7 linked regions of the Homo sapiens genome follow. The protein of the gene in region 6 purifies or fractionates together with the protein of the main gene of each other region. This does not show direct contact. Each region holds a gene or a part of one and is shown on either strand. Other genes may lie near its edges. The genes, in order: ARGLU1, WBP11, ZC3H13, C12orf43, NEMF, TCEAL7 and HABP4.

What was found.
Region 1: the proteins of TCEAL7 (region 6) and ARGLU1 purify together in Homo sapiens (affinity purification with mass spectrometry; one large-scale study listed by BioGRID and IntAct). This does not show direct contact.
Region 2: the proteins of TCEAL7 (region 6) and WBP11 purify together in Homo sapiens (affinity purification with mass spectrometry; one large-scale study listed by BioGRID and IntAct). This does not show direct contact.
Region 3: the proteins of TCEAL7 (region 6) and ZC3H13 purify together in Homo sapiens (affinity purification with mass spectrometry; one large-scale study listed by BioGRID and IntAct). This does not show direct contact.
Region 4: the proteins of TCEAL7 (region 6) and C12orf43 purify together in Homo sapiens (affinity purification with mass spectrometry; one large-scale study listed by BioGRID and IntAct). This does not show direct contact.
Region 5: the proteins of TCEAL7 (region 6) and NEMF purify together in Homo sapiens (affinity purification with mass spectrometry; one large-scale study listed by BioGRID and IntAct). This does not show direct contact.
Region 7: the proteins of TCEAL7 (region 6) and HABP4 purify together in Homo sapiens (affinity purification with mass spectrometry; one large-scale study listed by BioGRID and IntAct). This does not show direct contact.

The regions. Positions count from the first base shown.
Region 1 is NC_000013.11:106,551,138-106,554,637, reverse strand, and holds part of ARGLU1 (arginine and glutamate-rich protein 1), read left to right. Parts: intron 1-3,500. UniProt on the Homo sapiens protein: Dual function regulator of gene expression; regulator of transcription and modulator of alternative splicing. General coactivator of nuclear receptor-induced gene expression, including genes activated by the glucocorticoid receptor NR3C1.
Region 2 is NC_000012.12:14,786,479-14,789,978, forward strand, and holds part of WBP11 (WW domain-binding protein 11), read right to left. Parts: intron 2,656-3,500; coding exon 2,473-2,655; intron 1,021-2,472; coding exon 587-1,020; 3' UTR 1-586. UniProt on the Homo sapiens protein: Activates pre-mRNA splicing. May inhibit PP1 phosphatase activity.
Region 3 is NC_000013.11:45,969,247-45,972,746, reverse strand, and holds part of ZC3H13 (zinc finger CCCH domain-containing protein 13), read left to right. Parts: intron 1-2,281; coding exon 2,282-2,385; intron 2,386-2,775; coding exon 2,776-3,500. UniProt on the Homo sapiens protein: Associated component of the WMM complex, a complex that mediates N6-methyladenosine (m6A) methylation of RNAs, a modification that plays a role in the efficiency of mRNA splicing and RNA processing.
Region 4 is NC_000012.12:121,006,488-121,009,987, forward strand, and holds part of C12orf43 (protein CUSTOS), read right to left. Parts: intron 1-3,500. UniProt on the Homo sapiens protein: Plays a role in the regulation of Wnt signaling pathway during early development.
Region 5 is NC_000014.9:49,784,186-49,786,788, reverse strand, and holds part of NEMF (ribosome quality control complex subunit NEMF), read left to right. Parts: intron 1-6; coding exon of another isoform or gene 7-38; coding exon 39-71; intron 72-403; exon of another isoform or gene 404-1,199; coding exon of another isoform or gene 1,200-1,209; exon of another isoform or gene 1,210-1,468; coding exon 1,469-1,569; exon of another isoform or gene 1,570-1,653; coding exon 1,654-1,697; exon of another isoform or gene 1,698-1,784; coding exon 1,785-1,864; exon of another isoform or gene 1,865-2,075; coding exon 2,076-2,153; 3' UTR 2,154-2,603. UniProt on the Homo sapiens protein: Key component of the ribosome quality control complex (RQC), a ribosome-associated complex that mediates the extraction of incompletely synthesized nascent chains from stalled ribosomes as well as their ubiquitin-mediated proteasomal degradation.
Region 6 is NC_000023.11:103,328,942-103,332,826, reverse strand, and holds TCEAL7 (transcription elongation factor A protein-like 7), read right to left. Parts: upstream 2,589-3,885; 5' UTR 2,523-2,588; intron 1,905-2,522; 5' UTR 1,787-1,904; intron 1,451-1,786; 5' UTR 1,424-1,450; coding exon 1,121-1,423; 3' UTR 501-1,120; downstream 1-500. UniProt on the Homo sapiens protein: Plays a role in the negative regulation of NF-kappa-B signaling at the basal level by modulating transcriptional activity of NF-kappa-B on its target gene promoters.
Region 7 is NC_000009.12:96,456,669-96,460,168, reverse strand, and holds part of HABP4 (intracellular hyaluronan-binding protein 4), read right to left. Parts: intron 1,791-3,500; coding exon 1,628-1,790; intron 1-1,627. UniProt on the Homo sapiens protein: Ribosome-binding protein that promotes ribosome hibernation, a process during which ribosomes are stabilized in an inactive state and preserved from proteasomal degradation.

The sequences.
Region 1 (3,500 bases), on a different chromosome or scaffold from region 6:
TGGGATTACAGGCGTGAGCTACCGCGCCCGGCCAAGAAAAGTTTTTTATTTGGTTCTGTTGGTAGTCATATGCTGGCAGGAAAAGTAGGGTATTCTTTGTGTAGGAGGAGACAAAAAATGTATAAAGATGGCACGGTACACGTTGAGGCCCACTTCCACTTTTATTGCCTTTTTCCTTCCCCTTCCTCTCAATTTTGAGCACTATTCTTTAATCTTTATGTATGTTTATTGGGAAATATGTAAAATACATTCAAACTCCTATTAAAAGTACTTGATACCATATAAAGCAAGAAGAATGAGAAGCATTCTGGCCTCTAGAAAGTGATGAATGATGAAGGGTGATCAAAGGTAACTGTTTGCTAAAATCTATATTGAGAAAAACAACTGGATGGAAAAGTAGACAAGCCATTAAGTGCTTTAAAATAATTTAACATATTTTGGAAACAAAGACAACTCCAAAAAAAGTTACTAATACCATGGAAATATTTGGTAAGTGGTATAGGTAATGTAAGATAATGACATAGTTGCCCTGGGTGGCCTCGGAAACCTTCCTAGAAGAGGTAGTCCCTTGAGCTGGGCCCTGATGGGTAGGTGGAAATTCTATTAGGAGGTAGACAAGAGTGTGAGGAAATGAAACAGGGCAAAGGCCTTTGGGGTAGTAGAATAAAACAAAGGCTAGGGTGTGGAAACTTGGGATATTGGAAGAAGGAGCTATAGTAAAGTAGCAGCCATCCAACTTTATGTATGCTAAGAAGTTTGTGTGGAAAGTGGATTATAGAAAAGACAAGTTGATAATGAAAGTACCTTGGAAGTGGGGAGGGAGATTTCTTAAACATTTTAACTGAAAAAATAATACAATGATGTTACAGATCAGTAAAGAAGACTAACTTCCTAATTAAAAAGGATATTTGTACACAAGTAGGACAAGAAGCAACTACAATACATTTCTGAAAATATATCTCAACCTCAGAGAAACAAAGAAATGTCCCCCTCTTTTCTTTTTCCTTAATAGAAATCCCCTAAAGCCATTGTTTTTCATAGTGTCCTGTGTTGGCGGGTTATTATACAGATACCTCTTTACCTGATGATCATGAGAATTTAAATGGGTATAACAGTTTCCAAAGACAATTAACAGTAAATCAGTAAATATAAAAAACTTTAATTCTGTGTCTAAGAATTTATCTCATGAGATAGAATCATTTACAAATGAATTTATGTACAAAGATACTCTCAAATTATTTAAAATAGAAATGTCCAAGTTGTTGGATTCATTATTATTACACAGTGGGTTTTTCTGTAGCCAAAAAGTATTTGATAATTCAGGGGAAATACAAAATAGGAGGTAGCTAAATACAAAATTTATATATCCAATATGATCCTTTTATTTTGAGAAACATATACTTGCACATTTTAAGAGACAGAAAAATAAGCCAAAATGCTAAAAATAGTTATCCTTAATTGGTAGTCTTACGTGTAACTTTATACTTTTCTTCAGTTTCTACATGCTACAAGTAATGTATATCACTTTTTTTTATCACATAGAAATACTAGTAAAGAAGTTAAAGTCATACTTTTGACTTTTAAGTAGCCTTTTGTGACACAAGTTCACAGATTGAATCCCGTAATGACTAATAAGGAATGTGTTAGCCTAGCCACACGAGCTCATCCATATGTGAAAATCATTAAGTGCTCTAATCCATGGGTAGTTACTGTTTTTTTCAGTTCCACATTGTGTACCAAGATATTTGGTTTGTCAACAGAGACAAAAGTATTAACCAACAAACATACTTTATTTACAAAGTAAAAGCATCCAAATATGACTTGACTTGGCTTTTTGGCAGATTGTTCTTTGTTCTTGAGTTAGTGTTGGCGACACATAACTATCTTTAGGTATTTGAAGGGTTAATACAATGGAAAATTTTAATTTTCTTTTGTTAAAAATAATGCTTAAAATTTTTTGAAGTCTTCATGGTGTTTTTATGATGTGCCTGGGAAAATCTCAGATACTGTTCTGAAATGTATATGAATTTTACTTTTTTGGAGAGGGAAACAGACTTAAAAATTGGGGATAGATTTTGCTATAGAATAAAATACTCTTCCAGAAGGTTGTGTCAGCAGAAGGAAGAAACTCTCAATCTATACCCTTGTCAAGATTGTAAAATACAAACCGTACAACCTGGCTAGTGAATCTGGTGTAAACGCCTAAACTATAATAATAGATTGATAGATTGATAATTTCTAATAAAATTTTAGGTAACATACTGGTCAAAGGAAGGACAAATTACTTTTGATGGGAGATGGGGGTGTTTGGGGTTTTAAAGTATATGCAAGTTATAAATTCTAGATTTACAGATCTCTTTACTAATGAAATAGTTTTCTTCTCACCCCTTGCCAAGTTCATCGTGTTATACCACTTTGTATCTCACCAGTTTGTTATCTCAGCAGTTTGAGAGAAGAAAAGATATGCCATGTTTGAAAGTTGCTTATATATCAAATGTGTACCACATACATAAGTTTGAAATAAACCAGAGTTTGCTTTGCGAGATGGCTTTCTTTTAAATGAGTTTGTATGATAGGCTGAAAAATCCCTTCTGTCCTCTCTCCATGAAAAACAATCTGTATTCTAGTGCCTGGAATTTGAATGTGCCCATATATGACAAGGAGGGCGGGGCTTTTGCAGATGTGATTAAGTATCTTGCAATGGGGAGTTTATTCTGGATTATCTGGTGGGCCTTAAATGCCATCACATGTTTTCTTAGAGAGGCAGAGGGAAATTTTAGCATATAGCACAGACAGGAGAAGGAAGCTAAGTAAAGACAGAGGAGAGAGATTTGGAAATGTTGGCGTTGAAGATTGAAGTGATGTAGGCTGAAGCCAAGGAATCCTCGCAGCCACCAGAAGCTGTAAGAGACAAGGAGCAGACTCTCCGCTAAAGACTCCAGAAGGAGAATGGACACCCTTCTGACACCTTGCTTTCAGCCCAGTGATACTGATTTCAGACTCCTGGCCTCCAGAATAAATTTATTTTGAGCTGTTTAGTTTGTGGTAATATGTTACCTAAAAATGTGGAAGTGGTTTTGGAATTGGACAGTGGGTAGAGGCTCCAGTTTTGAGTCACATGATAGAAAATGCATATGTTGCCTTTAAAGACTGTTGGCAAAAATATGGATTTTAAAGGTGCTTCTGGTTAGGGCTCAGAAGCAAATTAGGAACATATAAACTGGAGGGAAAGAGATCCTTTCTATAAGTGATAGAAAGCTTGGCTGAATTGTGTCCTACAGTTGTATATAAGGCAGAACTTAAAACTTTTTCATATTTAGCTGAGAATTCTAAGTAAGTGTTGAAGTTGCAGCCTGGTTTCTTCCTGTTTATAGTAAAGTGGCAAGAAAAGCTAAATTGAAGAATGAACTGATAAGTATAGAAAGAACCACCAGCACTGGATGTTGGGAATATCTCAGGCTACTCAGATGGCAAAAGGTGTTCACTGTTAGAAAAACTGT
Region 2 (3,500 bases), on a different chromosome or scaffold from region 6:
TGGTGTAGAACATTTATTTATTTTTCCCACAAATCACTGAAAGTTTAGGTCAGTGGGAAATAATTTTAATCAAATAATTGTACATATTCTTCCCACATATCCTGCCTTGTATTAGGAAATGACATTGTGATCCATTTCATTACAAGTAAAATATTACAAAATATTTACAGGAAAATATTAAAAATAACTCAAACACAAAAGGCAAGATGAAATAAACTGTTTTTTTTTCTCCAGAAATCTCTACTCCAGTGCCCACAGCACACAAGAGTCAAAACAAATAAGCAACTAAGATCCCCCGATCACAAATTTCCAAAGAACTGGAGGAGGGGAAGAAACAGGGTGAAAATGGTGGTATGAAAGGGAATGGATGTTAGCAGCACTGCTTCAATAACTGATCTATTCTGGATGAAATACCCTTTTTTATGTGCAGTAAATTCTGAACAAGGCTAAATTTTAGGATATTCCTTGAACTGAAATTAGAAAATACCCTGACAATGGAAGCAGCTCTTTCATCTAAGTTTAATAAGAGCCTCTTTCTCCATGGGCCACTGTTGTGAACAGAAGCCTTTTCTGGCATCAAAAGCTGTCACAGTAGCCCTTCCATCTCTTTCATGAAAGCCTCATAGACATCATCCTTAGTTTGTACTGAGACAGGAACAGAAGGACCAGATTTGGGTGCTGCTTTGGCAAGAGGCACAGCAGAATCATCCTCTGACTTTCTTTGGGGAGCAGCAGTAGCCCCTTTATTCTCCCGACGTACTCTCAGTGCAGTGGGCACAAATCGAGTAATCTCTGCCTTGGGATTAGTGATCTGTGGCTTGGCACTGATGGTTGCTGTGGCTTTCTTCTCAATGGTGGCTGCACTTGTATCATCCGCCTTGGGTCGCTGAATCAAGTTGGGTGGGGCACTTAAAACCCCAGGGTTTGGCAAGGGAGCTGGTGGGAACAGCCCAGGGGGGGCAGGTCCAAGGGGAGGCACCAAAGGTGGGCGCATCATGCCAGGACGAGGTGGAGGAATACCTAAATGAATAAAATAGGCAAGATGAATACTGTAAGAACTAATAAAATTTAACTACTATTAAGGACATTTAAATATTGGTTGCCAATTTTTAAATAAATGGATAACAACTTACAGAAAATAAGCTGAATTCATATTGGTTGCTATTTGAAACTCAGGAATATTTTATTATAAAACAGTATTTACCTTCAGCCTATATTCCTGTACTTACAGTATTATGTTCTCTTCTTCTCTAAATAACATCCTACTTTAAAATATAAAGGGACATCAACTGGTTTCAAATTACTATCTCAAATCTCACATCCCAAGGTTCTATTCCAGCTGCATAGTGCAGGTATTAGTAAGGACAAGGTCAGGAGACTGATCCCCATGCATTATATTCCATACCATTTCCCCTGCACAAAAAGGTCAATGGGCAGGAAATAAAATTTTAACCCTGGTCATCAAATGCATACGGAGGCCGAGCATGGTGGCTCACACTTGTAATCCCAGCACTTTGGGAGGCTGAGGCGGGTGGATCATTTGAGGTCAGGAGCTCGAGACCAGCCTGATGACCAACATGATGAAACCCTGTCTCTACTAAAAATACAAAATTAGCTGGGCGTGGTGGTGCACGCCTGTAATCCCAGCTACTTGGGAGGCTGAGGCAGGAGAATTGCTTGAACCCAGGAGGCGGAGGTTGCAGTGAGCTCAGATCGCGCCATTGCACTCCAGCCTGGGCAAGAAGAATGAAACTCCGTCTCAAAGAAAAAAACAATGCACATGGAGTAAGAGAATGCAACTAATCACAATCTGTCATCATTACTGGAAAAGAACTCATGTCCTATGGACAGTTCAGACATACACAATATTCATATACCAAGAACTGCAGATTTCAGTTCTTCAAATACCACTTTTAAATGAAATATTAAGTACATTTTATCAAATCTAAGATCCTATTGATTACAAACTCATAATTATTCTGTGTACCACTGAGAGAGAGAGAGGAAAAAAAGCCCCAGCTGGGGCACTGAAAAGCAGATATTCACATGAAACTGGGACATTTCAGTGTTGTAAACTAGAAATATACCTACCACATAAAACAAGCCCACAAGAAAATCTGCATGTCTAACCTTGACATTAGGTAGAGGTAAGGGAAAAAAACACTCTAATTTTAAACTTTAAGTTGGTACTCATGCAGATGCATGAAACGGCTTCGTAACTACAACTAAAACCAAAAAATTATCAAATAGAGAATTTAATCCCATGTTCTCTGGCTACAAGTTCCTCAAGTGAACCAAGTGCAAATACCCACTGGAAGAACTGTACTTCAAGCCAGGTCAACGGCAACTTAAAAACCACCACTGACTGTAAGATGACCTCAGATTTCAGAATACTGAAATGTGACCATATGTCTTAGAGCAAATTAAATAAACAGCAGGCTAAGTTTTTATTATAGAAATTGAAAGCATCACCTGGAGGTGCAGGGGGAGGTAGCCTTGGTGGGGGTCCACGAGGAGGGGGACCAGGAGGCAGACCTGGAGGTGGACCTGGGGGAGGGCCAGGGGGTCGGCCTGGTGGTGGTCCTGGAGGTAAAAGTCGGGGTAAGGGCCCTCGGAGTCCTGGCATTCCAGGTGGTCTCAGGAATGGAGGAGCTCCTGAAAAGAGAAAAATGATAAATTAATGTCACACAAATGTACACTAAGTAATAATTATGGCTTAAAAGTAACTCAAATATGGTTTGACTTTAACCTGAAATCAGATTAACTTCAAGAAGTTAATGAAACATACATGGAAACAGAATTCATTCAATAAATATCTGAGTACAGCCGGGCATGGTGGCTCATGCCTGTAATCCCAGCACTTTGGGAGGCTGAAGTGGGTGGATCACAAGGTCAGGAGTTCAAGACCATCCTGGCCAAGATGGTGAAACCCCATCTCTACTAAAAATACATAAAAATTAGCCGGGCATGGTGGCAGACACCTGTAATCCCCGCTACTTGGGAGGCTGAGGCAGGAGAATGGTGTGAACCCGGGAGGCGGAGCTTGTAGTGAGCTGAGATTGCGCCATTGCACTCCAGCCTGGGTGACAGAACAAGACTCCGTCTTAAAAAAAAAAATATATCTGAGCACCAGAAAAATGGTACTGGATTTGTTGTGGATCTTTTCACTTTATTTCCCAACACTGACAAAAAGCATATTCAATCACAGCTCCGCAATGTTGGAAATATACAAAGGTGATAAGAATTCTTAAATGGTTCCAGTATAAGCTGAAAATGGAATATAAAACACAATGCTTTAAGGACCCCTTGAAACTCATGAATATATAGACAAAGACCACTAAGAATGACATAAAATAGGTAACTTTGCTTTGCACCAATCGGAAAATGATTAGCTCAACTGAAGAAAACTTAGTAGGCTGACAATAGGATGAAGGACTAAAATCACAAATAGCTGAAAAGTTCTCTGTTGCTTCATTTCATAAATAATCTTTTTATACTTT
Region 3 (3,500 bases), on a different chromosome or scaffold from region 6:
AAATAGGCCAGTTATTGATGGGAGAGGAGCTTTGGATAAAGTAGTACACAAGCTTGGGCCTGTGAGTTGTCATATTACACCTGGGGCCTTCTCCACATGGTTGTTCATCTATATAAAGGAGCTGTCTATGATATACATGTGCTGGTATGTTTTTGTTTTATTTTTATTTCAATAGCTTTTAGGGTACAAGAGGTTTTTGGTTACCTGGATGAATTCAGAGATTTTAGTGCACCTGTCACCTGAGTAGTCCACATTGTACCAAACATGTACGTTTTTATCCCTCACTCCCCTTCCACCCTCCCCCTTCTGAGTCTCCAAAGCCCATTATATCACTCTGTATGCCTTTGCATACTCATAGCTTAGCTCTCACTTACAGGTGAGAACAAGTTGCTGCAAAAGACATTATTTTTTTCCTTTTTATGGCTGAGTAGTAGTCCATGGTTTCATGGTGTATATATACCACATTTTCTTTATCCACCCATTGGCCAATGGGCACTTAGGTTGGTTCTATATCTTTACAGTTGTGAATTTTGCTGCTATAAACATATATGTGCATGTTTTTTTTTTTCATATAATGACTTCTTTTCCTTTGGGTAGATACCCAGTAGTGGGATTGCTGGATCAAATATCTCCTTTTAGTTCTTTAGGGACTCTCCATACTGTTTTTCATAGAGGTTGTACTTATTTACATACCCACCAGCAGTGAATAAGCATTCCCTTTTCACCATGTCTATGCTAACATCTCCTGTTTTTTTTACTTTTTAATGGCCATTTTTGTAGGAGTAAGGTGGCATCTCATTGTGGTTTTTAATTTGTATTTCCCTGATGATTAGTGATTTTGAGCATTTTTTCATACGTTTGTTGGCTGTTTGTATGTCTTCTTTTGAGAAATGTCTATTCGTGTCCTTTATCCACTTTTTGATGGGATTATTTATGTTTTTCTTGCTGATTTATTTGAGTTTCTTATAGATTCTGGATACTAGTCCTTTGTTGGATACATAGTTTGCAAACATTTTCTCCCATTCTATGGGTTGTCTTTGTTATTTATTTTGCTGTGCAGAAGCTTTTTAGTTTAATTAGGTTCCATTTATTTATTTTTGGTTTCGTTGCGTTTGCTTTTAGAATCTTGGCCATGAAGTCTTTGCCTAGGCCAGTGTCCAAAAGAGTTTTCCCAGTGTTAATTTCTAGAATTTTAATGGTTTCAGGTTTTAGATTTAAGTCTTTGATCCTTCTTGAGCTGATTTTTGTTTGAGCTGAGAGGGATCCGGTTTCATTCTTTTACATGTGACTTGCCAATTTTCCCACCACCATTTAGTAAATAGAGTGTCCTTTCCCCAGTTATGTTTTGTATGCTTTTGCTGAAGATCATTTGGCTTTATTTCTGGGTTTTCTATTCTGTTCCATTGGTCCATGTATACAATATGTTTCTTAACTTTTGACCATAGTATTTATAAACAAACAATGTTAGTGAAAAAACAGGTAGTCAAATTTTAATGAAAATGGGGGAAAACACTAGAATAATTTAAGTACCCAAGAGATATAAAACGCTACTCATTTAAAGCTCAACTAAGGAACAAAAAATATAATGAACGTATGAATTATTTTATTAATTTGTCAGCAAGAAAGTGATTTCCATGAAGGGGAAAGGAACTAATTTTATGGTGTACCCACAACATATTTGGCACTGGGTTTATGACATAACTAATTTATTCCTTACTGCAATTTTATGAAATGGACTCTCATTTCCCACCCATTCAGCCCCACCCACCATTTTCAGATGAGAAACTAAGGTTCAGTGACTTCAAGGAACTTACTTAAGGCTGCGTAATAACTAATGTAGTTATAAGTTGAACTCATAGCTTTTTTACTTCAAAGCCAATATTAGGTTTTCTCATTCAGCTCTGCAGCATAAGGCATTTTTATATCATAAGAATGCAAAATTGCTGAATGTTTATATCAGAGGGTACATTAATATATTGGTTTCTGTGCTGCATGTTACCACCTTACAGTATTTAAATCTGGCAATTTTCACTTGAGTTATTCTACATGTATAATGAAGAAGAAGAAGAAATGTTGTGTATTTTAAGTTCACAATTCTTAGCAAATGAAGTAAAGAATTTGTATTAAAGACACTGAATATCCTTTGTATGATACACTCTGGCAATATTGCTTTCCTACAATTATATGTTCCAGTTATAGTAAAGAGATACTAGTAAAAACAAAAAAATCTCTTTTTTTGCCCCCTAGAATTTTATAAATTGTGTTTGCTTGTCCAATTTAGGAAGCGCTATAGAAATGAAGGGAGTCCCAGCCCTAGACAGTCCCCGAAGCGCCGGCGTGAACATTCTCCGGACAGTGATGCCTACAACAGTGGAGATGATAAAAGTAAGCAGACTCTGTTTTCTGTCTCTCTATATTCATATTCATTTGTAACCATGAAACCATCCTTTCATACTAGTAGGAACTGATGAATTAAGATTTTTAAAAAGTTGTCTTGCTTTGCTGCCTCTAAATATCTCCTTTTGTGACTAAAGTATGTGTTAGAGTACTGTCATTTTCTACTATTTATAGTAAAGCCATATTTTTATTTTTACTAAAATTATTGTCATTTTAAAAGTTTTTAAATGATCTTGATCTCTTGATCTCATGATCCACCTGCCTCGGCCTCCCAAAGTCCTGGGATTACAGGTGTGAGGAGAAATTATTATAATCTATATGTACCATGCAGTGGTTACTAACCTGGTGAGAGTGTGATTGCTTTTATCTTTTATATAGATGAAAAACACAGACTCTTGAGCCAAGTTGTACGACCTCAAGAATCTCGTTCTCTTAGTCCCTCGCACCTCACAGAAGACAGACAGGGTAGATGGAAAGAGGAGGATCGTAAACCAGAAAGGAAAGAGAGTTCAAGGCGCTACGAAGAACAGGAACTCAAGGAGAAAGTTTCTTCTGTAGATAAACAGAGAGAACAGACAGAAATCCTGGAAAGCTCAAGAATGCGTGCACAGGACATTATAGGACACCACCAGTCTGAAGATCGAGAGACATCTGATCGAGCTCATGATGAAAACAAGAAGAAAGCAAAAATTCAAAAGAAACCAATTAAGAAAAAGAAAGAGGATGATGTTGGAATAGAGAGGGGTAACATAGAGACAACATCTGAAGATGGTCAAGTATTTTCACCAAAAAAAGGACAGAAAAAGAAAAGCATTGAAAAAAAACGTAAAAAATCCAAAGGTGATTCTGATATTTCTGATGAAGAAGCAGCCCAGCAAAGTAAGAAGAAAAGAGGCCCACGGACTCCCCCTATAACAACTAAAGAGGAATTGGTTGAAATGTGCAATGGTAAGAATGGTATTCTAGAGGACTCCCAGAAAAAAGAAGATACAGCATTCAGTGACTGGTCTGATGAGGATGTCCCTGACCGTACAGAGGTGACAGAAGCAGAGCATACTGCCACCGCCACGACTCCTGGTAGTACCCCTTCTCCTCTATCTTCT
Region 4 (3,500 bases), on a different chromosome or scaffold from region 6:
TTGTAAATGCAAAAGCGAAAGCGTGCTGGCCTAGTAAGAGGGCTGATGGTCTGGTTATAACATGCTGACCAGCCTCTGCCACGCGAACTGCAGTGCTTCATTTCTTTAAAGCCCACTTTATTCCAGTAAGTGTTGAAGAAGTTTTAAAGACATAGTAAAACAAGATGAGGCCAGGCATGGTGGCTCACGCCTGTAATCCTAGCACTTTGGGAGGCCAAGGCAGGCAGATCATGAGGCCAGGAGATCGAGACCATTCTGGCTAACACGGTGAAACCCCATCTCTACTAAAAATACAAAAAATTAGCCGGGCATGGTGGCGGGCGCCTGTAGTCCCAGCTACTCGGGAGGCTGAGGCAGGAGAATGGCGTGAACCTGGGAGGCGGAGCTTGCAGTGAACTGAGACTGCGCCACTGCACTCCAGCCTGGGTGACAGAGCAAGACTCCATCTCCAAAAAAAGAAAAGAATTTAACAAAATGAATGCAATTTCAAATAGGACAAAGAGATATAAGGGCAAGAGGAACAGAAAGACCTAGAAGTGTAGTCAGGAAGTCCTATACACTTGTTAGAGAGAGGGCATACATTTTGCTCTGAGCTTCCTAGCAGCAAGCATGAAAAGGGAAATATGACCAATCTAGAAAACTGGTTCAGAGGACAGCTTCTGGAGCAGGGCAGACCTGTTTTTAAATTTTTTTTTTTAATTAAAAGAAATTGGAGATAATTGTAGACATGCAGTAGCAACAAATAATGCAGATGTTCCATAGACCCTCCATCCATTTTCTCGCAATGGTAACATTGTGCCTCGCTATAGTACAACATCACAACTAGGAAATGCAAATTGATCCAATTCATGGACCTCATTCAGACTTCAGAGACCTGGGTTTTGAATCCCGGTTTTGTCACTTATTAGCTATGTCCCTTAAGCAAATGACTTTATCTCTCTGAGTCTCTGTTATCCACCTGTGCAGTGGGAACGATGAAGGTCCCTACCTCTTAAGGTTGTCACAAGGATTGAAGGGGAAAATGGATATCAAGCACTTGTGGCACACGGCCTAGCCACAAGTAGCTGCTCAGCAAATGGTAGCTATGATGACGATGCAGATGATGACTGTCATCAAGAAAAGCTTCAGCCTTCACAGGCTCTCTAACATAAAAATAAACCACATTTCTCTAGAGGCACAAGGCCAGGAAGCATGTGTCTGGTGAGTGCAGATGGAGATGCCACTGTGCACAGCAGAGAACAAGGCTCTCAGCAATGCCCTCGAGGCAGACGCAGCAATGCCCTGGGTGCTTTCCCTAACCTCCCTTCCTGTATGCCAAAGGTGCCCCCCAAGCCCTGTTCAGGAAAAGCAACCCGGGGAGAGGGAGTAGAGATGATGCCACCCAGGCACCTGTTCTTGACCCCACACAGTGGTTCAATGGTGGCCATCAGGGGCATTTGGCAATGTCTGGAGACATTTTTGGATGTCACAACTGGTGGGGTGAGTGCTACTATCATCTAGTAGGTAGAGGCCAGGGATGTTGGTAAACATCCTATAATGGGAAGAAGAAGGATAGACCCCCACGACAAATGCTAGTCAAAGATGTCAGTAGCGCCAAGGTTGAGAGACACTGACCTAACACTAGGGACCAAATGCAGTATCATTTACATTTCCTTTTTTTTTTTTGAGATGGGATCTCACTCTGTCACCCAGGCTGGAGTGCAGTGGCACGATCTCAGCTCACTGCAACCTCTGCATCCTGGGTTCAAACGATTCTCCTACCTCAGCCTCCCAAGTAGCTGGGATAACAGGTGCACGCCACCATGCCCAGCTAATTTTTGCATTTTTAGTAGAGATGGGGTCTCACCATGTTGGCCAGGCTGGTCTCGAACTCCTGTCCTCAAATGATCCACCCGCTTCAGCCTCCCAAAGTGCTGGGATCAGAGGCATGAGCTGCCACGCCTGGCCTAAGGTATCATTTAGATTTCTTTGGAGAAACATGAAAATGCTGCAGGGAATATTCTAACCATGGCTGACTGGCATTTCTACTGCAGAAACATCTCTGTGACTCAGTGCAATGCCAAGCAGGCCCTGTTCAGCCTGAAGCCAGAGAGTCACAAAGGAAAACTGCTCCCACAGGCTGAAATGCAGCTGCCTTCCTAAACACCTCCTCTACTTTCTCCAATTGAGGGGAACCCTGTGGGATTCAGGCTGCGGGGCTCTGGCCCATCATTCTGTCTCAGAAGAATAGCTGGTTCACACTTTGGGAAGGCTCATTTGTCCTTTTTGATATCTACTTTGAATGGAATGACAATGGCCCCAAATCCTGCCTCATCTCCCTTTCAAAACCCTGCCAGGGCTCTGCCAGTCAGGAACAGATCTAGACCAGTGTATCCCCAGACCTGTTCCGCAGGTTGTTGACTGGTTTTCCATGAAACAAAGGCACTGTGGCCAAACAAGTTTGGAAAATGCTGGGCTAAACAGTTACACAGGTCTCTTCACTACAGGAATTCTCAGAGCCTTGAATATACTACTCTGGCTTGCAGTCTGCAAGGACACGTGGAGGTATGTAGATTGCAGTGTTTCTCACGCTTCTTTGCTGTTGGACCTCCTTTTTTCTAAAGCCACGCTTTGGGCTAGTGCTAGAATCCAAATGTTTGTGTCCTCCCCAAATTCTTATGGTGAAATCCTCACCCCAGCTGGGCATGGTGCCTTACACCTGCAATCCCAGCACTCTGGGAGGCCGAGCCGGTGGATCACTTGAAGTCAGGAGTTCGAGACCAGCCTGGCCAACATAATGAAAACCCATTTCTACTGAAAATACAAAAAATACAAAAAATTAGCCAAGCGTGGTGGGTGCGCACCTGTAACCCCAGCTACTCAGGAGGCTGAGGCATGAAAATCGCTTGAACCCAGGAACTGGAGGTTGTTGTGAGCCGAGATCACGCCACTGTGCTCCAGAGGGAGACTCTGTCTCCAAAAAGAGAAAAGAAAAAGAGAAATCCTCAACCCAAGGTATTAGGATTAGGAGATGGGGGCCTTTGAGAGGTGATTAGGTCGGGAGGGTGGAGCCTTGATGAATGAAATTGCTGCTCCTATAAAAAAGGTCTGAGAGAGACCCCTCGCCCATGCCACTATGTGAGGACACAGTAGGAAGGCGCCATCTGTACTGGGAAGAGGGCTCTCCCCAGACACTGAATCTGCTGGTGCCTTGATCTTGGACTTCTCAGCCTCCAAAATGTGAGAAATACATTTATTTTGTTTATAAGCTACCCAGTTTATGTTATTTTGTTATAGCAGCCCATATGGACTCAAACAGGTTGTATCCTTGACACCTACTTTAGGAATGCCAACCTGAATCCTTACCGACTGGGTTATCAACCTGTGCTGAGAATGTAAGATAGAGACCTGGCACAGTGTCTAGCATACAGAAGGCACCCAAGAAATAGGAACACGGTCCTTCCTTGCCCTCTTGTGGCGGGAATGAGCTTCTCGATGTTCCTCTCTTACTCTCATGGTTG
Region 5 (2,603 bases), on a different chromosome or scaffold from region 6:
TTATAGCTGACATTTTTATTTTTATATGTTCGGAACAGGAAGAGCAAGATCTGGATCAACAGGGAAATGAGGTATGATTTTATGTTGGGGTTCCTACTACAACACTGTGATTACAATTCAGTTCCCAGAATGTTTGAAACACAACTTATTAAAACTTAGAAACCTAAGACAAGACTGCAGGCTACGAAGTCAAACTTTCGGGGTCTTAATCCCAACTCTGCTATATGTAACTGTACAAACTTGGAAACATTCTTTGTGCCTCAGTTTCCTCATCTGAAGAATGGGGATAATGTCCCTACCCAGGAGAGGGTTGTTTTGATAACTAATGTATGTAAAGGGCATTTAGAAAAGTTTATGGCACATAGCAAACACTCAAATATTAATTATACTTCAGCACCAAGCATTCTGTCCTAAATCTAAGTTTATTCATATTGTAAAATAAATGGGGGCAATCTCACAGGCAGCACAGCAAATAAGAACTCTGGGATTTCTCCTTAATAATGGGTAAGAGAGAAGGCTGTTCTAGCCCAGGGTTTCTCAACTTTGGCACTATTAACATTAGGGGTTGGTTAATTCTTTGTTGTGGGGTCTGTCCCATTCATTATAAAATGTTTAGCGACATCCTCGGCCTTTACCCACTAGATCCCAGTAGCAGCCCCTACCTATTCCTTCTCACCCCTCATCGTGTCAACGAAAACTATCTCTAGACATTGCCCATTGTCTTCTGAGGGCAGAATCTCCCCAGGACGAGAAATAGTGGTATAGCCAAGGTATTAGTCCCATTTCCATGTGATAGGACTTAAATCTATTTGTGGTTATTATTGCATCATTTTAATCCACAGCAGGTTTCTGCAACTCAGGTAATATCCAATAGTTTTTTTCCTTTTTTTTTTTTTTTTGAGACAGGGTCTCTGTCACCCAGGCTGGTGTCACCCAGTGCAGTGACAGGATCATGGCTCTCCACAACGTCTACCTCCTGGGCTCAGGTGATCCTCCCCCCCTCAGTCTTCCGAGTAGCTGGGACTACAGGCACCCACTATACCCAGCTAACTTTTATATTTTTTGTAGAGATGGTGTTTCTCCATGTTGCTTAGGCTGGTCTTGAACTCCTGGGCTCAAGCGATCCACCCGCCTCAGCCTGAGCCTTCCAGAGTCCTAGGATTATAGGCGTGAACCACTGCTCCTGGGCCTTCTTTCTCTTAAATGTAACTGTAGGTAGGATTTTGAAAATTATTGTTCTCATTACTTATTATGCTAGGCAAAAATTAAGTAGTAAAGAATATATTTAAACATTGGTCTTCAACTCTTTGGAACTATGAAGCAGAGTTTAAGTACCACTGTTCCAGCTTAGATGGTATGTATATCAGGAAAAGATAAAAAATATGTTGAGATACTAATTCAAGTGTTTTAGCATTTTTTGTAAAGGGCGGTATAAATTGCCTTTGTAACTGTTATTTTCCCTTTTTAGGAAAACCTATTTGATTCTTTGACAGGCCAGCCACATCCTGAAGATGTACTACTGTTTGCCATTCCAATATGTGCCCCTTACACCACCATGACAAACTACAAGTAAGTTACCATTAGTTGACAGAATGGCTTTTGTGAATTGTTTTGTAACGTCTATTTAGTAACACATGTAATTCCTTTTTAAAGATATAAAGTGAAACTTACTCCTGGAGTGCAGAAAAAGGGAAAAGGTATTTAAATTTGTTTTTTTGAATTATGATTTTAAACAGTTCAGTGACTTAACAGTAGATTATTCTTACTCTTTTTTGTATTTACAGCTGCAAAAACAGCCTTGAATAGTTTCATGCATTCCAAAGAAGCAACAGCAAGAGAAAAAGACTTATTCCGCAGCGTAAAGGTAAAGTTCTCCTTCAGAAAAGGAATGTGGAGACTGACAGTACAATTTAAAATGTTAGCAGTTTTTTGTTATTTTAGTAGAAAATGCTGTCTTATTAGAAGCAGTAAAACCATCTCAGCTAAAAGTTTGGAAATGTTTTTCGTTTTTGTCATAAAAGAAACATGATTGACCATACAGGATGTGAAGATATTCAGCAATTTTCTTTTTTTAGGACACAGATTTATCAAGAAACATTCCTGGCAAAGTGAAAGTGTCTGCACCCAATCTTCTGAACGTAAAAAGGAAATAGCTGAAATGAAATTCTAAAATATTTGAGAAGAGCCAATTTTATAGCCTTTTGGAAGTTCAAAGATGAAAGCACCATGTATCAGGATTTCCGCATTATAAAAATGAACTAAACATTGCCTTGCTATATTCACCAAAAGGACTTACTTCTTGTTTTTTCCCAGTTTTATATAGAGGAAACACTGTCTATGATAGGATTTCCAAAAGTATTTGTGGACAGTTAAATGCTAATTAATATACATCTGTAGTTATTCTACATTTTCTTGAAATTTGGGAGGTTAATACCAAGTATTCATTTCATGATGTAAAGAAACTGAACAGTGAAGTGGCTTGATTGCTTAAACTATTGACTTGGTAAGTCTACTGTATATAACATCTAATATATATATTACAGGCCAAATGAACTAAACATTGCCTTGCTATATTCACCAAAAGGACTTAATTCTTGTTTTTT
Region 6 (3,885 bases):
GCTCTGAAAGACATTGTGGCCCAAGCAACCCTAGAGAAGTCCCACCTGTGTTAAATGTCACTATAAAGCACAGGAAGCTTTAGACGACAAGAGTCAGAGTTCAACCCACTGACGACTCCAGGGAATTCGGTTGGGTTTTGGCCCTGAATGACTGCAGTGCATCAGCAGCAGTGGGGCCAGCAGAGAGCACAGGGCCCAGCAGAAGAGGCAGCAGTGTTGGGCAGGTGTGGCAGGACCCAGGGGAGGAGACAGGGCTCAATAACAGAGGACTGATAGGGAAGCCCCCACCTCTGCCTACTGGACTTGTTCCGGAGTACAAGTTGAATCATGCCAGGCCCTCTCTGAAGTTATTGGTGTATTCTATAGTGGGTTGGGATTCTGTATGCACAGTGGGGAACAAGATCCCACTGAGCACAGCTGGTTACTGCCTCATTTCCTTCCCACAGCAGCCCTGTGAGGCAAATATTTTCCCTATGAAAAGACTGAGTCTTAAACGTGTGTATCTGTAATAATTACCAGTTTATTACTCTGGCTAAGAGATCCAGAGGTAATTGGAGGTTTACATTTCATTTTTACGCTTCTGTTATTGAGAGTTTATTAAGTGTTTCATTGCCTTCCAAAGGCGATTGACAAGTTCTTTTACTGTCTACTTTAGGGTTTTTTGTGACACAAGTAATATACACACATAAACATATATTCATTTTTTGGCAAGTGAGAAGATGCAGATAGGCAAAAAGAAAAAAAAAGAGATCACACAGAGATTCACTGTTAACCTTTGGTGTATAATAAAATCAGACACTTTCCTTTGCATTATGTCACATAGAAATGTACAAATAAAGTGTACATATATACACACATATATGTATACACTGTTTTGCAACTCGTTATTTTCACTTTGCAATATACAATGAGCATTTTTCCATGCAAATGAATGAGACCTCTTATTAAATGAATAAGATTGGGTCAAAAGATGAGATGTTGACAAGAGTCATATGTAAATCTCAGCAACATCGAATGACTGGAGTAAAACGATAGCAAATATTTATCAAGAAAGTGCAGACAAACAGAAAGCAGTGGCAACATTAATAACAGAAAATAATTGAATTGTCAGAGAAATTAATTAAATGGGATAAGGACGGTCCCGAGAATGCCTATGGTTAGAATGCAGAGCCCTAAATTTCTTTCTCAGACCCCTTATCTCTTCCAAACACCTTTCCATCTCATCTCCCTCCCTTGTCATTTCTTCATCTTTAAAATGCCTATAGTCTATGTCCTCTTTAAATTCTTCGAGAGACTGAAGCAGCCTCTGTCTAAAATTCCCTTCTGTTTGCTGGCGTTCAAATTCTCCATACGGGCGTTTTTCCTCCCTCTTTGGCACGCTGCACTTTGGCTTTCCTTCGTTTTCTTTGCAGGGTTTTTGCATGATGTTGTTGTTGTTTCCTGCTTAACTCTAGGGAGAAAATGTAAAGACAAATTGCTTCATTACTTTTGAATCACGATTGTCAGTTTCTCTCTGAGGCAAGATACTTTCCCATCTCTGCCCCACAGGTCCAGACCTCATAAGTCTGCGGCAGTTCCCTCCACCCTCTCATCTCCCCCTTTTCTCCCCTCCCACCTCAGGAACCCACCGTTTCCCCAGCAGACAAAGCTAATGGCCTCTCCAATAGGCAGGAGAGGCGGAGCAGAAAAGGAGATGGACTGCGAAGCCGCAAATTTCGCCTAGCTTTTGCCCCTTCCCGACTCCTATCCTCAGAGATCTCAGTCTAAGTGCCTCTCTCATACTGACCTGTGCGGGGTAGTTTCCTGCTCCTTTTCTTCCCCCAGATGTCTGTGAACACAGATCCTGGGACCTCCAAACAAAAAGGAAGGGGCGGGGAGGAAGGAGCTATCTGTGGATCAACCAGCTCCAGAGACAAGACAGACGTTATTATTTTGAACCTGGGATTCTCATCATCACCGTCATCGCCCCCCGGATTTCTACCTCCTGGCCCCTCCTTCCTGTCTGTATCCTTTCCTTCAGGATTTCCGTTTCCACTCCCCACTCCTCACCCTCAGGCCTGGGCCTTGCAAGGCCCGCGTCTCCCTCCTTCGCCCCGTCCCGCGCCCCACCCCACCACCACAGGCCGGCATTGAGTGAGGTGAACTATTTTCAAATGATCTCTAAATTTCTGTTGTCTCCATCCCGGGATTTCAGCCTTTCTCCACACACCAACACATACCCCAGGCCTAAAATTTTCTCTTAACAAAATTGGAGAAAGATGAGGAGAAGGATAAAAAGAAAGCATGCCAGGGTGAGAGAAGCCGATTATTTCAAAGCTGTCACTAAATCTCTAGGTGTCTCTCAAAAGATTTCGACCTACCCCCTTGCTTCCCCCTGCAAAAGATACAATTATCTCCGACGATTTTGCAGCGGTTTTGGGAAAGCAAGTCTGGACCTATTCCAGTCATTAGATTCACCCACTACTGACCCCGGGGGTCCAGTGGTTCCTTCACTCCAACCTGCTGGGATTTAAGGAATTTACCTCTTCCTTCCCTTGGCCACAAGCACGCACGGCACGCTTGTCTGCAGGGCAGTAAGGAGCTGGTACCCAGAGGAGAAAGAAGCCCGGGAATATAAGGACTTCGGTTCACGTCAGCTCCTGATCACGTGAGGATTATGTCATCCCCCATCTCTGGTCCCCACTTTCCCCTCCCACCAGCAGCGCTGCAGAAGTGGACCGGCTTACCAACCTCCCACCCCACACCACACCAGGCCCTGTCACTCATTTTTGTCTTTGCTAATTCCAGAGGTCAAAAGTGGCGCCTTCTCCCTGTGGTCAGAATTTGCCTTTCTCTGATTACCAGGGAGGGGCTGCATTTTCCCAAAGTTATATTAACCATTGTTACTTTTTTTGTGGTTGTGCTGAGAGGGAGGATTACTTATCCTTTTCTAAGCTACAAGAAAAGAAAAGTGGCAGTCTCCTCCATCCAATCGCCTCTCAGCCACTAATAGCCATCATTTCCCTTGGAGTCCAATCCTTGAAACCAGATTGGAGGGAATGGGGTGAATTAGGAAAGGAGGTAATGATTTGGATTGTGCTTCTTACTTTTGTTTTGATAATTTCTTATTCTTTTCCAATTTTTCCATAAACTTATTATATACTTTTAATAATCAGAAATATGATAAAGATATGTACATTTGGAAAAAGATTCCAGATAGGAGGATAAAAAGGCCAGCCACCTGTTTCTGCTGCTGAAGTCATAATATAAATATAGACCCTTTAGGCAGACATATTTTTTGAAGTTTAAGATGTACAGGTCAGTTGGAACCTACTCTTTTGAGGGGCTCCCGGGCATGTGAGGTCCTTCCATTAGGTGAGTCACTGAGACCATAATCCTACAGCACCTTGCCCTTAGATTTCCAGATCGCAACTGTAAGTCACAAATTTTAACTAGTTTGAGCTCAGTATCATGCCCTCTTTCTTCCAGTTTATACCATACACATAACCCTTTTTTCTTCAATACTGTACCCCTAATATCCCAACTTTTTTCAACACTCTCATTCAGAAAAGAATAGTTTTTCATTTTCCCTAGACATCTCCATCCTATTTATGTTTTCCATGACCTTATTTAGCCATACTGATGTATTGAAAGCTACTTGTAGTACTAACAAAAATTAGTCACATTTAGCCACCCAACACACTAAACTTTTTGTTGCTAAGGATTTGGGTACTTGTCTAAGTAGATTTGCTCTTGATTTGTTAGCTTGAAATATATGCAATAGAAAGGGAGATGTGTAAACTTCTCATAAGTTGTTTTTAGGAAGATTGCAGCTCATTATGAATATAAAGTTACCACTAATCAGTTTGATATAAATGACTCCAGAAAAAAGTTCAGTGGTCAGAA
Region 7 (3,500 bases), on a different chromosome or scaffold from region 6:
CTATTTTTTCATGTCACATATAAAGATCTATTTTATCCTTTTTAAAGACTACACAGTCTTGCTACTAAAAAAGGGGGGAAACATGGGTTTGTGCAAGTGAACTATAATTTCCTCATTTCCACAGAATCCCTAAAGTGAGGGGAAAATAAATACCCAAATGCTTCCAAAAATAAGCAGCTCTGCTACAAGAAGCTTTGCAGAAACAAGGAGACTGTGCTTACTACACAGCAGATTTGAAGTAATCACCAAAAAAGGTGCAAAATTAAGGCTTTCTGTAAGTTTCTCCCTCCAACATGGTTGCAGATAGACTATCTCAATGTCTTGAATGTGTAACTTCCAGGTGAACAGTTCTGCATGAGTCATCACCTGCTCAGCCCACCCAGGCTAAGTTACTCTCTGCTGGACTTTTGTTTTGTTTTGTTTTTAATAGGCTCTATAGTATAGTTTTACAAAGCCACATTTTTTGGTTAAAACTTGTAGCCAGAATCCTAAATGGAATGGAATTAGCAGTCAAGAAGCAGAAAGAGTTTGGAAAAATGGCTCCCTTGACATATAACTGTTCACTATTCTAGTCTTCCTTAGCTTGTTTAACTTTATTTTCCTTGAAATGTGATTCACTACTTGTTTCTGTTTAACATAAACAGGTTTAATGATTAAACAAAGACTTTAAGCAGCAAGTGCCAAACATAAGACACAACCCCTCCCCGTGTTGAGGTGGAGTGCGGTGGCCACCATGCTGCCACATCACTAAGCAGCGACGCAACACTCCACCAGCCCACGACTTCTGTCCATGTTAGAGTACTTCGGAGAGCAGCCATGCCCTCCAGAAATTGGTATTACACATCATAACAGACTCTTCTTCAAATTTCATCATGGCAGCCTACTGACCTGACCGTGGAGCTAGGAATTTATTTCAATCCATTGAGCAGTCTAAATTGGTAATGTGAAATCAAAAACCATAATTATATCCCTAGTCCAAAATTATATCTCTAATCTAGAACTTCAAAAGAAAACCAGTTCAACACACTCCTGTGTAATTTCTTTTTAAGAGTGCTCTTCAGTTACCAACAAGCAATTCATTTTTAATTGTACAATCATTTCCTGAACCAAGACGTAAAGGCATCTATGAGGAAAAAGGAAGATCCTTCCCATCATCTAAGGTAACATGAATTGCACATAAATTAGTAAAACATTCCTAGGACTGGTACCACAAAAAGCAGTAGCCAGTAGAAAGTTGTATTTTCTGGGCCGGGCATGGTGGCTCACTCCTGTAATCCCAGCACTTTTGGCAGGCCAAGGCAGGTGGATCACCTGAGGTTGGGAGTTCAAGACTAGCCTGACCAACATGGAGAAACCCCGTCTCTACTAAAAATACAAAATTAGCCGGGCGTGGTGGCACATGCCTGTAATCCCAGCTACTTGGGAGGCTGAGGCAGGAGAATTGCTTGAACCCGGGAGCGGAGGTTGCAGTGAGCCGAGATCGCACCATTGCACTCCAGCCTGGGCGACAAGAGCGAAACTGTCTCAAAAAAAAAAAAAAAAGAAAGAAAGAAAAGAAAAAGAAAGTAGCATTTTCTCAAAACCTTTCTGGTTCCCCACCCGCCCTGCTGAGGACTGCAGCACATACTTTTCATCTGGAAACTTCTCAGCTGTGAAGTCTGCCTGCCTCTCTGTCTCATAGGGTCGGTATTCCCTGTAGGATCTCCGCTCAGCTCTTTCGAGCATCCCCTCCGGCCCACGGCTGTCATTCCATCCTTGCTGCTCCCCTCTTCTAGGAGTCCGCTTCTGGCCTACCAACAGAAAATCAAAGCAGAGAGCTGGAACACAACATCTGCAACAGCACACTATTAAACTTTACAGGTACTTGTAAATTTCATTTTTCTAGAAATCAACGTCATAGGAGAATTCAGGAAGTTTAGAAAACTTCAAAGAAAAAAGTTGCTGATACTACAACTGCCCACAGTCTACTTTTTAATAGGATGTTACTATTAAATCATGCTTTCCCTATATCCTAGAAAGTATATGACCAACTAAGCTCACCTATAATTACAGGCATCTCCCAATAACTGTGACAGCCATGGGTACATTTTACTAAATAAGCTACAGTTCACAAAAGCAGTCTTACAAAAACACAGTGTGTAAGCCGTACCTAGAAAATGAAAGAATACCCTATATTTCAGACTGTACTTTTAGAATCCCAACTGCACATTACATAGCAACTATGGCTTATCACTGGCTACTAAGGTTTTTGTTTTTATTTTGTATTTTTTTAATTTATTTACTTAATTACTTATTTTGAGACAGAGTCTTGCTCTGTCACCCAGCCCGAAGTGCAGTGCACTGTTTAATCTTGGCTCACTGCAATCTCCGCCTCCCAGGCTCAAGCAATTCTCATGCCTCAGCCTCCCAAGATGCTGGAATTACAGGCATGTGCCACCATGCCCAGCTAATTTTTGTATTTTTAATAGAGACAGGGTTTCACCATGTTGGCCAGGCTGGTCTCGAACTCCCAGCTTCAAGCAATTCACCCACCTCACCCTCCTGAAGCACTGGGATTACAGGCATGAGCCTCAGCGCCTGGCCAAGGTTTTTGTTTTTAAAGTTTGTAGTGCTTATATTTTTACTTTGAAAACAGATTTTCCTGCTATTCTATGAGATATATAGACTTGCAGTTATAACTTCCTGAATATGAACCAAACACTGCTATTTGGCAACTTGCCCAAGAGTCAGCCAGTACTTGAGGGCATCTCTTTTTGTCCACTCAGTCCAGCACTTGGACACTGTGCTGGGACCACAGACTCTGGTTTTGTTCTTGTGTTTTTTTTTTGAGACTGAGTTTCACTCTTGTTGCCCAGGCTGGAGTGCAATGGCCCGATCTCGGCTCACTGCAACCTCCGCCTCCCGGGTAGAGATTAGCTGGGATCACAGGCCTGCGCCACCACGCCTGGCTAATGTTGTATTTTCAGTAGAGACGACGTTTCTCTAACCTGGTCAGGCTGGTCTCCTCAGCCTCCCAAAGTGCCAGGATTACAGGCGTGAGCCACCGTGCCCGGCCGAGACTCTGGTCTTTTCCTCTGTCCTGTCACCTTGCTTTACTCCCCTTTAGTTTTAATGCTTTAAACATCTTAAGCAAAGTCTATGTTTGAAGCCATCTAATACTTGGTAAATACATTGTGGAGAACTTTGTCACATCTTTAATCTTCAAAAAAAGTCTATCTTTTTTTATATACATTTAAAAGATCTCCTCTCACTATGTGCAATATTTACTATAGTGGCTTCAATTTTTCTTGGTACAAATTACTCTCCACATTAGTTGTATAGCTATGACATTTATTCAAGTTAATGGATATATATATATATATATATATATATATATATATATATATATTTTTTTTTTTTTTTTTTTTTTGAGATGGAGTCTTGCTCTGTTGCCCAGGCTGGAGTACAGCGGCGCCATCTCGGCTCACTGCAAGCACCGCCTCCCGGGTTCACGCCATTCT